Linked DNA regions of Homo sapiens: region 1 is linked to region 2. A link means that fine-mapping ties the variant in region 2 to the expression of a gene that starts in the linked region. Tissue or cell type: whole blood. Region 2 holds a variant in brackets; the other region holds the start of a gene. All regions are shown on one strand. Distances are from middle to middle.

Region 1 (5,637 bases), 34 kb before region 2:
CGAGGCAGGTGGATCACTTGAGGTCACGAGTTCGAGACCAGCCTGGCCTACATGGAAACCCCGTCTCTGTTAAAAATACAAAAATTAGCCGGGCGTGGTAGTGCACGCCTGTAATGCCAGCTACTCGGGAGGCTGAAGCATGAGAATCGCTTAAACCTGGGAGATGGAGGTTGCAATGAACCGAAATCATACTGCTGCACTCCAGCCTGGGCGACAGAACGAGACTCCGTCACCACAAAAAAGAAAAAAAAAAGAGCTGGTAGCGGAGTTGGGCTTCGAACTCAGGTCTCGCTGATCCCAGAGTCTTCACCAGGCTCCTCATAGCGAGATGATCTGCCAGGGAGACCTCCAAACTCAGTGGTTAAAGAGACTGAGGGACGGGCCATTTTTCCACATGCCCTGGGTCAGGCTCCCGGGCTCAGGTCAGCAGGGAGGGTCTATCTCCTCTGCGTAGCAAAAGGGAAACTGAGGCAGTGGGTGGGAAACTGAGGCACTGGGTAGAAAATCTGCTCAGTCACCAAGTCCTGTTGCCCCGCCTCCTGAATTCCTCCCAGACCTATCACTCTCCCCATCCTAAATGTGTCAGCTCCTCACCAGAGCCCCAGGCCCCAGGCCCCAAGGTCCATTAGGACACCAGAGACTTGCCTTTCCCTCTCTCCTCCCTACACCCTGTGTTTTCCCCTCAATTTTCAGATCTCAGCTGATTTCCTGGGAGGGTTCTCATGTCCCTCTTGGAGACCTAGGAAGCACTGCCTCCCATGTCTAACAACTGTCCTTAAAGCCCTGGTCATGCCTGTCCACCCACAGACTGGACATTCTGTGGAGGTCAGGGCTGTGACCTGGCCGCCTAAACCCAGGGCAGTGCCTGATTATAAGTGGACACAGGTCACATAAGGGTCCAAGCTGGGTCCAGAGAAGATCCCGGCTGTCCTAGATTCTGAGCAGGGAAGCTCAGCTGCTTGCCGACCTGGAGGGGCACGGAGGGGCCCGCAACCTGGGCCAAGGGACAGAGGAAGGGAGTGGCCTTTACGGCTTCCTCCTGGGTGCGGCCAGGGGAGGTGGCAAATCCGCCACCCTGGCTTAGCTTCACTCTGCCAAGGCCTTTAACCTCTTCCACCTTTACCCACCAGCCATGAGCCTCCAACCCCCCACTCCCCACTGCCAGCCCCTCCTCGGCCTTCAGGCCTAATTGCACCTACTTGCCACAGGGTCCCTGAGCTCTATGGATCCCAGAAGAGCTGTGGACAAACCGGTGCCTGCTTCCTTCCCCGCCCCCGGGAGATCTGGCAGCCTCCAGGTGTGGCTCTCCACCCAGGCGCAGACTTCCACAGCCCTGACACCTCTGACCTCCCTTCGCTGGACTGCGGGAGTGTGTATCCCTCTGCAAAGTGGACAGTAGAGCACAGCAGTCCCCGCCTCATAGGGTGTAAGCCTGACAGGAGTTACAGTGACCAGTGACTTTCTCTCCTGGCCTCAGTTTCCTCACCTGTAAACGGGGTATGCTGGGAATCCCTACCTCAACATCCTGAGAAAAAAGAGACTGTGTATAGAGTTTTGTCCTGTAATCCCAGCACTTTGGGAGGCTGAGGCGGACAGAACACTTGAGGTCAGGAGTTCGAGACCAGTCTGGCCAACATGGTGAAACCCCATCTCTACTAAAAATACAAAAATTAGCCGGGCATGGTGACGGTGCCTGTAGTCCCAAGCTACTCGGGAGGCTGAGGCATGAGAATTGCTTAAACCCGGGAGGCGGAGGGTGCAGTGAGCCAACATTGCACTGCACTCCAGCCAGGGCGACAGAGGGAGACTCAAAAAAAAAAAAACAAAAACTTTTGTACTTGGTTAACGTGAACGCTGCCTCCTTAAAAAAAAACAAACAAAAAAAAACCCAGGAACATTTAACGTGAATGTCAGGGACTTTGGGATGAGTCCAGGGACCTAGAAGTGCGGAATGCACAAAGGAGCTGGGAAAGTGTGTGAGCCTGAGCCCAGGGCTGCAAGTTGGGAGTGCCTGAGTGCACAGGGAGGCCACTCCAACCCTCCAGCTGCCTCTAGGGGTATCAGAGAGGGAGCCCGTCCCCACTGGCCACCAATACCTCTTAGGCCAGGGCGAACACGTCCACGGGGGTATATTCAACTTGTGACCCCAGTCTCTGCGAGAGCCTGCAGTAGCATGGGGGGGAGAGACCTCGCGTTCTCTAAGGATGGAGGACAAAGGAGGAGAGACTGGGAGGGCAGGGACGGTTGCGGAACGGTCACAAGGCCTGGGCGCGAGGGTTTGGAAGGCAAAGGTGCGAGAGGCACCAGGTGACCCGTCCTGCGTGATTAGCGGTCGGACAATCTGAGCCTGCTAAGAGCTTTCCTGACCACGCTGGTATGAAGGGCGGCTTGGAGGTGACAATGGGGGACGACAGGGCACAGCAGGTGTGGAGACGGTGTGCAGGGCCGGAGCAAAACCGTTAAAGGCAGGTGGAGACACCCTCCTCCCCTCCCCCAGCATGGGGTCTTCCTAGCACCAGTGCGCGCCTTCCCACAAGCGATGAAGTCCAAGTCCACGTGCTGGGGGAGTGTCATGAACTGACGTGCGGTGCAGCCAGTGACTAGGCGTTGTCGGTGCGCGGCGGCGGGGCGAAGCCTCGCGAGGGGTGGGAGCCCGCGCTGCGGGGCGTCACTCACCTGCGGCCTGGGCAGAGGTCGGGGTGGAAAGCGGGCTCGCGGCGGCCTCCAGGCCTAGTCCGAGGCCGAGCAGCAGCAGCAGCGCCAGGCCCAGAGCCCCTGTTCGCCACGCTCCAACCTGCGCCATCCAACCGCCGCTCATGCTGTCCCCACAGCGGCGCCGGCCACGCGCTGTCCAGACCGCTCTCTTATCCCTGCGCACGCGCACGCGCGGGGTTGGGGCGGGGCCCAAGCCCCTGAGTTCTGCGGCGCCCGCGGCTACGCGTACCGTAAATGTCAGAATAGCAGGGAAAAGAGAATTAGAGGCCCGTCCCCACTTTCCCCAGTGACCAGATCAGTTGAAAGGTATGGAGCCCGCTTGAAGTTAGAAACTTCTGGGGATGGGAAGGAATTTGTTGGTGTTCATTTGCATTATTTCCCGTTCCAAATGAGGACTGCTGCAAATGTTACTGCCTCGTGATCTTCTTTAATATGGCAGCCACGCCCCTCAGGCACTCCGCATTTCCTCCCTCATCCCACTGCTTTTGTGGCGCCGACAGGTAATTTATTTTATTTACTTATTCTGGTTTGTTGTCCGAGTCCCCATAGAATGCTAGCTACTGGAGGGCAGGGATCTTCTGTTGCTCACTGCTTTATTCTCAGGATCTGACACATAGTGCTTGACTCATAGTAGGCTCTTAGTAAACATTTGGTGAGTAAATGAATAAATGAAACGTCCATTCTCGGAGTCGGGTTGCTTGGGGGGGAAAAAGGAAAGGAAATCAATTAATTAATTAAATTTAATAATAAAGGCCGGGCGCGGTGGGTCACGTGTGTGATCCCAGCATTTTGGGAAGCAGAGGCGGGCAGATCGCTTGAGCCCAGGAGTTCGAGATCAGCCTGGGCAACACAGCAAGTCCCCGCCCGCCTCAAGAAAAAAGAAAATTAGCTGGGCATGGTGGCTCTAATTTGTAGTCCCAGCTACTCAGGAGGCTGAGGTGGGAGAATCACTTGGGGCTGCACTCCAGCGTGGGTGACAGTGAGACCCCATTTGTTAGAAAAGTTGGCCGGCGCGCTGGCTCACGCCTGTTAACCCCAGCACTTTGGGAGGCCGAGGCAGGCGGATCACGAGGTCAGGAGTTCTAAACCAGCCTGGCCAACATAGTAAAACTCCCGTCTCTACCAAAAATACAAAAATTAGCCGGGTGTGGTAACATGCTCCTGTAGTCCCAGCTACTAGGGAGGCTGAGATGGGAGAATCGCTTGAACCCGGGAGGCGGAGGTTGCAGTGCGCCGAGACCACATCATTGAACTCCAGCCTGGGTGACAGAGTGAGACTCTGTCTCAAAAAAAAAAAAAAGTTGTGGTCATAAAACTTGGTTCAGATGCCGTCAGCGGCATGCCTTGCCTAGGGTCTTGCCCTCCTTGTGGCCTCTGCACACCCTGCCTAGTCTTTCCTTCCCTCCTGACCTTTCTGAATCTGATTCATCCTTTTGCCCCAAGCAGAATCCCACCTTCTCCAGGAAGGTGTTAGCCTTTGTAGGACCCACTCTGGGACACTGGTACCTGCTGCCTGTAGCCGTGGCCTTTCCCCTTCCAGAGGGCAGGGCGGTCTCAGCACCCTCTTGGTCCACAGCTGATCTTTTTTAGCTGCTGAAGGGTCTGGGGCTGTGCCCTGGGGAAGCCATGACACTCCCCTGCGTAGGGTCACTGGGTGGCTCCTGCAGCCAGACTTGGACACCCTCCCTTTGCAGATTTCTGTCTCCTCCCCAGGAACCAGCTGCCTTCCTTCTGGGGCGAATTCATTCTTATCCCACAGCCCCAGCATAATGGGATCTGGCTCAGGGAGGCCTTTCCTGATCTGCCCTAGGTTTGCCTTCCCTGTGAGCAGCCCTTACTGTCCTCTGCCTTCCCCGTTGAGCTGCAGGGTGACCATGGTCAAGCAGGAGCCTCAGTGGGAAGGTGCTGAGGAAGGTTCATGTGAGAAGTGGCTGTGGGAGCCCTCAAGAGATGGAAGTTAGGCCAGGCGCGGTGGCTCACGCCTGTAATCCCAACACTTCGGGAGGCAGAGGTGGGCGGATCACTTGAGGTCAGGAGTTTGAGACCAGCCTGGCCAACATGGCGAAACCCCGTCTCTACTAAAAATACAAAAATTAGCTGGGCTTGTGGCAGGCGCCTGTAATCCCAGCTACTCGGGAGGCTGAGGCAAGAGAATCACTTGAACCCAGGAGGCAGAGGTTATAGTGAGCCGTGATCGCGCCATTGTACTCTAGCCTGGGCAACAAGAGCGAAACTCTGTCTCAAAAAAAAAAAAGAAGTGAGAAGTCTGTGGCTGGCCTACTGAGTGTCCGCACATACACCCCTTACCCCACCTGACTGGTCTTCACAATCAATGCTCCCCAACAGCCAGCGGTCCTGGGAGTCCAACCTCCCAGAAGGATCACCCACTCCCACCACTCTCAAGGTCAGAGCCTGGCCTTTGGGGGAAAGGGCAGTGCTGTCTCCAGGGCCTCTGCACCCAGGGACAGTGTCTGTCCCACCCCTGGAGTGCCAACAGAGTTGGGAGACTCAGCACTGACTTCACCCCAAAATCCAAGTAAGCTGGGTATTGCTTAAAATCAGGGGCCAGGCGTGGTGGCTCACACCTGTAATCCCAACACTTTGGGAGGCCAAGGCGGGCGGATCACCTGAGGTCAGGAATTTGAGACCAGCCTGGCCATCTCTACAAAAAAAAAAAAAAATTAGCGGGTATGGTGGTGCACACCCGTAGTCCCAGCTACTCGGGAGGCTGAGGCAGAATTGCTTGAGCCCAGGAGGCAGAGGTTGCAGTGACCTGAGATCGTGCCGTTGCGTTCCAGCCTGGGTGACAAGCGCGAAAACTCTGGCTCCTGCAGCCAGATTTCTATCTCCTCCCCAGGAACCAGCTGCCTTCCTTCTGGAGCTAACTCATTCTCATCCCACAGCCCCAGCATAATGGTTTCT
Region 2 (5,637 bases):
TCACTGCAACCTCTGCCTCCTGGGTTCAAGTGATTCTCCTGCCTCAGCCTCCTGAGTAGCTGGGATTACAGCCACTGCTACTATACCTGGCTAATTTTTTGTATTTTTAGTAGAGATAGGGTTTCATCATGTTGGCCAGGCTGGTCTCGAACTCCTGACCTCAGGTGATCCACCCACCTCGGCATCCCAAAGTGCTGGGATTACAGGCATGAGCCAAGGTGCCTGGCCACTATCTCTTTTGTTTGTTTGTTTTTAAATAGTGAAACCACCAAGCACAGTGGCTCACAAGCCATTGCTCTCCAGCCTGGGCAACAAGAGCGAAGCTCTGTCTCTAAATAAATAAATAAAATAGCGAAACCCCATCTCTACAAAAAACACAAAAATTAGCTGGATGTGTTGGCATGCACCTGTAGTCCCAGCTACTCAAGAAGCTGAGGCAGGAGTATCTCTTGAGTCCAGGAGATGCAGGCTGCAGTGAGTTATGATCATGCCACTGCATTCCAGCCTGGTTGACAGAGCAAGACCTTGTCTCAAAAAAAAAAAAAAAAAAAAAGAAAAGAAAAGAAAAGAAAAGCACAGGAACATGGAGTGGGAAAGATGGGCTTTGGAAAGCCCACATGGAAAACCTTCAGGGAGGGGAAAGTGCCTACGGTGTGCCCTTCCTGATTAAATGTCATCGCCATAGCTGGACACAATGGTGCATGCCTGTAGTCCCAGCTACTCAGGAGGCTGAGGCAGGAGAATCGCTTGAACCTGGGAGGCAGAGGTTGCAGTGAGCTGAGATCATGCCACTGCACTCCAGCCTGGGGGACAGAGCCAGACTCCGTCTCAAAAAAAAAAAACCATATATATATATATATACACACACACACACACACACACACACACAGCCCCCATACAACACTTTGCATACTGCAAAGTAGTATTATTATTCATATTTTACAGATGGAGAAACTGAGGCACAGAACAATTAAATCAGTTGCCTGTGGGAAGCACCCTCAGATTGGGCTCTGCCCATCTGCGGAACCCTTGTCAGCAGGTCCCTGCCACAGCTTCTGACTGCCCTTTACCTGTCCAGTCCTCCACTGACAGGCATCTGCCAAACCCACTTCATCCTCTCCCTGGGCCACGGCCCGTCTGTGCTAACCACATGGCAACACTCCCAGCCACCCCTTCTGGCTTCTCGAATCCCTGGGACCACCTGTGTGCCTGATGCTATGAAGCACTGAGCACCCACCAGCCCTCCTGACTCATTACCCTACTCCACCGCTGGGGAAACCGTAACTCCATTTCCCACTTCTGTCTGGCCGAGGTCCCTGACCTCTCCCTTCCCACTCCAAGGCCAGGCAGGGGGCCTCTTCCAGTCCCCAAGCAGCTGTTTCCCGTCCCTTCACACCAGCTGCAAGGGGTGGATCAACAGGCCAGCGGGTCATCGCAGAGGACAGCCAATGCCGTTCATCACTTGTTTTCAGGAAATTGCCAGGGAAGAACTGGGTTGTGGAAAAAGTCCAGATCAAGGGTTGGGGGGTCTGGGTCTACTTCTCACACAGCTGGCCGTATGACGCAATGGGGTCAGCGTCCTCCTCCGGTGACCTGGTCACACCCAAATCCCAGGCCCTGGGATCTCAGAAGACAGCTGTGGGCCATTCCTAAGACCTAAACTAGCTGAAGCAGTTGGATCCAGAGGCTGGGCTAAGAAAGGAATGGATCCCTCCAGAATGTCAAATAATAACAACGCTTTTGATATTTACTATGGGCCAGCCTCTAGTCTAAGGAATTTATGGATATTTACTTTTTTTTTTTTTTTTTTTAGAGGCAATGTCTCGCTCACTCTGTCACCCAGGCTGGAGTCAGTGGCTCGATCATAGCTCACTGTGGCCTTGAACCCCTGAGCTCAAGTGATCCGCCTCAGCCTCACAAATAGCTGAGACTACAGGAATGGACCTCTACACCTGGCTAATTCAGGCTAATATTTTAAATTTTTTGGTTTTTTGTTTTAGATGGAGTCATGCTCTGTCGCCCAGGCTGGAGTGCAGTGGCACAATCTCAGCTCACTGCAATCTCCGCCTCCCGGGTTCAAGTGATTCTCCTGCCTCAGCCTCCCAAGCAGCTGGGATTACAGGTGTGCACCACCATGCCTGGCTAATTTTTGTATTTTTAGTAGAGACGGAGTTTCACCATGTTGGCCAGGCTGGTCTCAAACCAGGCGTGAGCCGTGCCCGGCCTAATTTTATTTTTTGTAGATACAGGTGTCTTGCTATATTGCCCAGGCTGGCCTCCAACTCCTGGGCTCAAGCAATCTTCCCAGTTCAGCCTCCCAGAGTGCTGGGATTACAAGCATGAGCTACTGCACCTGACCTTGACTTATTTTTTAAAATCCTAGCTAAATCCACTGAGGTTGGATTTCCTATGATCATTGTCCCTTCCCCTATTGTACAGATGGAGAAACTGAGACACAGAACAGTTTAGTGTCCTGCCTGGGTCCTGTCATAAACAGGCAGAGGCAGGTTTTAAACCCAGGCAGGTCTTCCAGAGTCCTTGCTTTGGCCACTACACTTGAATGCTTTCTTTTATTTTTATTTTTGAGACGGAGTCTCTGTCACCCAGGCTGGAGTGCAGTGGCAGGATCTCGGCTCACTGCAACCTCTGAGCCCAGGGTTCAAGCGACTCTCCTGCCTCAGCATCCTGAGTAGCTGGGATTACAGGCACTTGCCACCACAGCTGGCTAATTTTTGAATTTTTAGTAGAGACGGGTTTCATCATGTTGGTCAGTCTGGTCTCAAACTCCTGACCTCAAGAGATCAGCCCTACTTGACCTCCCAAAGTGCTGGGATAACAGGCATGAACCACCAAGGAGCCTCAGGGGGCTTGTCCCTCCCAGCCTACACCTGTGTCAGACTCTGATTGGGGGCGGAGGTGCCCACCACCTCTGCGGCTTCAGGGGCTGGGGCCTCACTAAGTGGGGCGTTTAGCTGCCTTCCCTCTCCTCCGCTCCCTGCCCTGACTGTCACAGCTAGATCCGGATTCTGTGCCTGAGACCCCCTCATTAGGCCGTCAGAGCCGACGCCACACGCCCCCTCTCCCGCCCCAGGGACTATTTTGGGACGCAGAGCTGTGATCACCAAACCGGAGTGGTGGGGGCCACGGCAGGCCAGTGAGGATCCCAGTCCTGGGGAGAGGGCGCCTTCCAGGAGGCCCTGAGTACTGGC[A/C]GCCCCTGATGTCTGCTGGGACTCTCAGACTCTTGAGGTGGGTGGGTGGGGGACCGGTGGCGGCAGGAAGGTGGGTGTTAAAGTCATCATCACCCGTCCACCCCCAGGTCGTCCTAGCCGCACAGAGACAGAGCAGTTTCCTACAGGAAGCGCCGCCGGGCGGTTCCATCCGCTACCCATTGTCTGCGGGTCCGGGGGCCGTGCGTCCCTCCCCAAAACACCATTTCCGTGACACGCTCCCACACCCAGCCCAGCGCGAGGGGCTGGCTGGGGTCCCCAGGCCGTCCCGGGAAAGGGTCCCAGGGCCGGTTGTGGCATTAGGGAGCGAACGAGCCCCGCAGTGAGCTCCCGAAGGGCGAGAGGGGGGCAAGCCCACGCCTCCAGAGCCCCCCACTCTGCTCGCTACCCACCTGGGACTTCCAATGTGGGAGGGGTCCCGGCCAGAGGACACGACGCCCGCCCCGTCGCAGCGGGCAGAGCCCTCAGTGGGGCTGGAAACGCAGCGCAGCGCCGGGTCCCGGTGCGTCCCCGAATCCACCCACCCAGGGGTCCCCCATCCGTGTCCCCGCAAGCTGGCAATTTACCTGAAGCCGCAGCCCCAGCCGCGCCCGCACCCGAGCCCGCCCCCTCGAAGTCCGGGGACTGATTATCAAGGCCTTCGCCCTAACTGACGGCCACGCCAGCCAACCAGCACCCGAGGCTCTCCAAGCCGCCCAGTGGGACGGTGGGGTGGGACAGGCAGGCGGGGCCTGGAATGTAGGGGTGGTGACTGAGGGCGGGCCCTGGAGTGACGGTCGCCGAGCGCTGGCTGGCGGCATTTCTGCACCAGCAGAGGTCAAGTCTCTGCCCAGCGCCGGGCCAAGGAGCTTGGATTTGATCCACAGGCACGAGGGAGCCATGGGAGAACTATGAGTAGAAGAGTAACCCGGTGGGATTTCTATAACTGGCACTTATTTCGCAGTGCCTGGGTGAAGTATCAGGTCCCGGATCTTCCCCACCGCAGGGCCTCTGCACATGCTGTTCCACCTACCTGAAATGCTTTCCCTTGCACCTGTACACGTAGGTACTTTTTGAGGCTCCCCTACTGTTTTTTGTTTTGTTTTGTTTTTGTTTTTTGAGACGGAGTCCCAGGCTGGAGTGCAGTGACACTCACTGCAACCTCCGCCTCCTGGGTTCAAGCAATTCTCCTGCCTCAGCCTCCCGAGTAGCTGGGATTACAGACACACACCACCACGTCCAGCTAATATTTGTATTTTTAGTAGAGATGGGGTTTCACCATGTTGGCCGGGCTGGTCTGGAACTCCTGACCTCAAGTGATCCGCCCGCCTCAGCCTCCCAAAGTGTTGGGATTACAGGCGTGAGCCACCGCGCCCGGCCTTCCCTACTTTCTGAGGTTCAGCTTTTGTGTTGCTGCCCCCTAAATTCCTGACATAGCCCCTCCCCAGTTAGTATTTTTCTCATCACTCTATTGTATTAACCTAATAGCTACTTTTACTATCTGGAAAAAAAAAAAAAAGCAGACTCTGTTATTGGCAGGCGCAGTGACTCACGCCTGTAAATCCAGTATTTAGGGAGGCATAGATGGGAGGATAGCTTGAGCCAGGAGTTGAGACCAGCCTGGGCAACATAGCAAGACCTAGTTCTCAAAACAAAAGAAAACAACAAAACAAAAAGACAAAAACGAAACACTCAGTTATTTATTTGGTTTATTTTTTAATTTAATTTAATTTTTTTTTAGACAGAGTCTCGCTCTGTCCCAGGCTGGAGTGCAGTGGTGCGATCTTGGCTCACTGCAACCTCTGCCTCCTGGGGTTCAAGCGATTCTCCTGCCTCAGCCTTCTAAGTAGCTGGGATTACAGGCGCACACCACCACGCCCAGCTAATTTTTGTATTTTTAGTAGAGACAGGGTTTCACCATGTTGCCCAGGCTGGTCTCGAACTCCTGACCTCAGGTGATCCGCCCACCTCAGCCTCCCAAAGTGCTGGGATTACAGGCGTGAGCCACCATGCCTGGCTGGTTATTTATTGGTTTACCTGCTTGCCATCTCACTAAAGTGTCGGCACCAAGGCCAGGTGGGGTGGCTCATGCCTGTAATCCTAGCACCTCCTGAGGCTGAGGTGGGAGGATCTTTTGAGCCCAGCAGCTCAAGACCAGCCTGGGCAACAGAGTGAGACTCTGTCTCTAAATTAAGTGTCAGCACCATGGGAACAGGAAACTGGTTTTGATAACTGCTTTATCCAGCGACCCTAGTACACAGTAGATGCTTAATAAATGTTTGCTGAAATAATGTTTTCTTTTTCTTTTTTGAGTCAGGGTCTCATTCTGTTGCCCAGGGTAGAGTGCTGTGGCACAATATCTCAGCTCACTACAAACTCCGCCTCCCAGGTTAAAGAGATCCTCCTGCCTCAGCCTCCCAAGTAGCTGGGA

What was found. PIP is the estimated chance that this variant, and not a neighbour inherited with it, causes the effect.
Region 1: CD320 starts here. The variant in region 2 is fine-mapped to the expression of CD320 in whole blood (INTERVAL, PIP 0.91).

Annotation. Positions count from the first base shown.
Region 1 is chr19:8,305,473-8,311,109 of GRCh38, forward strand. CD320 (CD320 molecule) reads right to left here and starts at 2,886. Exons shown (of 5, transcript NM_016579.4): 1 at 2,677-2,886. The coding sequence starts at 2,818. It also overlaps a transcript of NDUFA7 not described here. RefSeq lists enhancers at 1,649-2,389, 2,376-2,505, 2,390-3,129, 3,185-3,714 and silencers at 2,586-2,675, 2,650-2,988.
Region 2 is chr19:8,339,432-8,345,068 of GRCh38, forward strand. It overlaps KANK3 (KN motif and ankyrin repeat domains 3), which reads right to left and starts at 3,831. Exons shown (of 11, transcript NM_198471.3): 1 at 3,794-3,831. RefSeq lists enhancers at 839-1,339, 3,274-4,065. The variant A/C (reference allele first, on the strand shown) is at 3,210.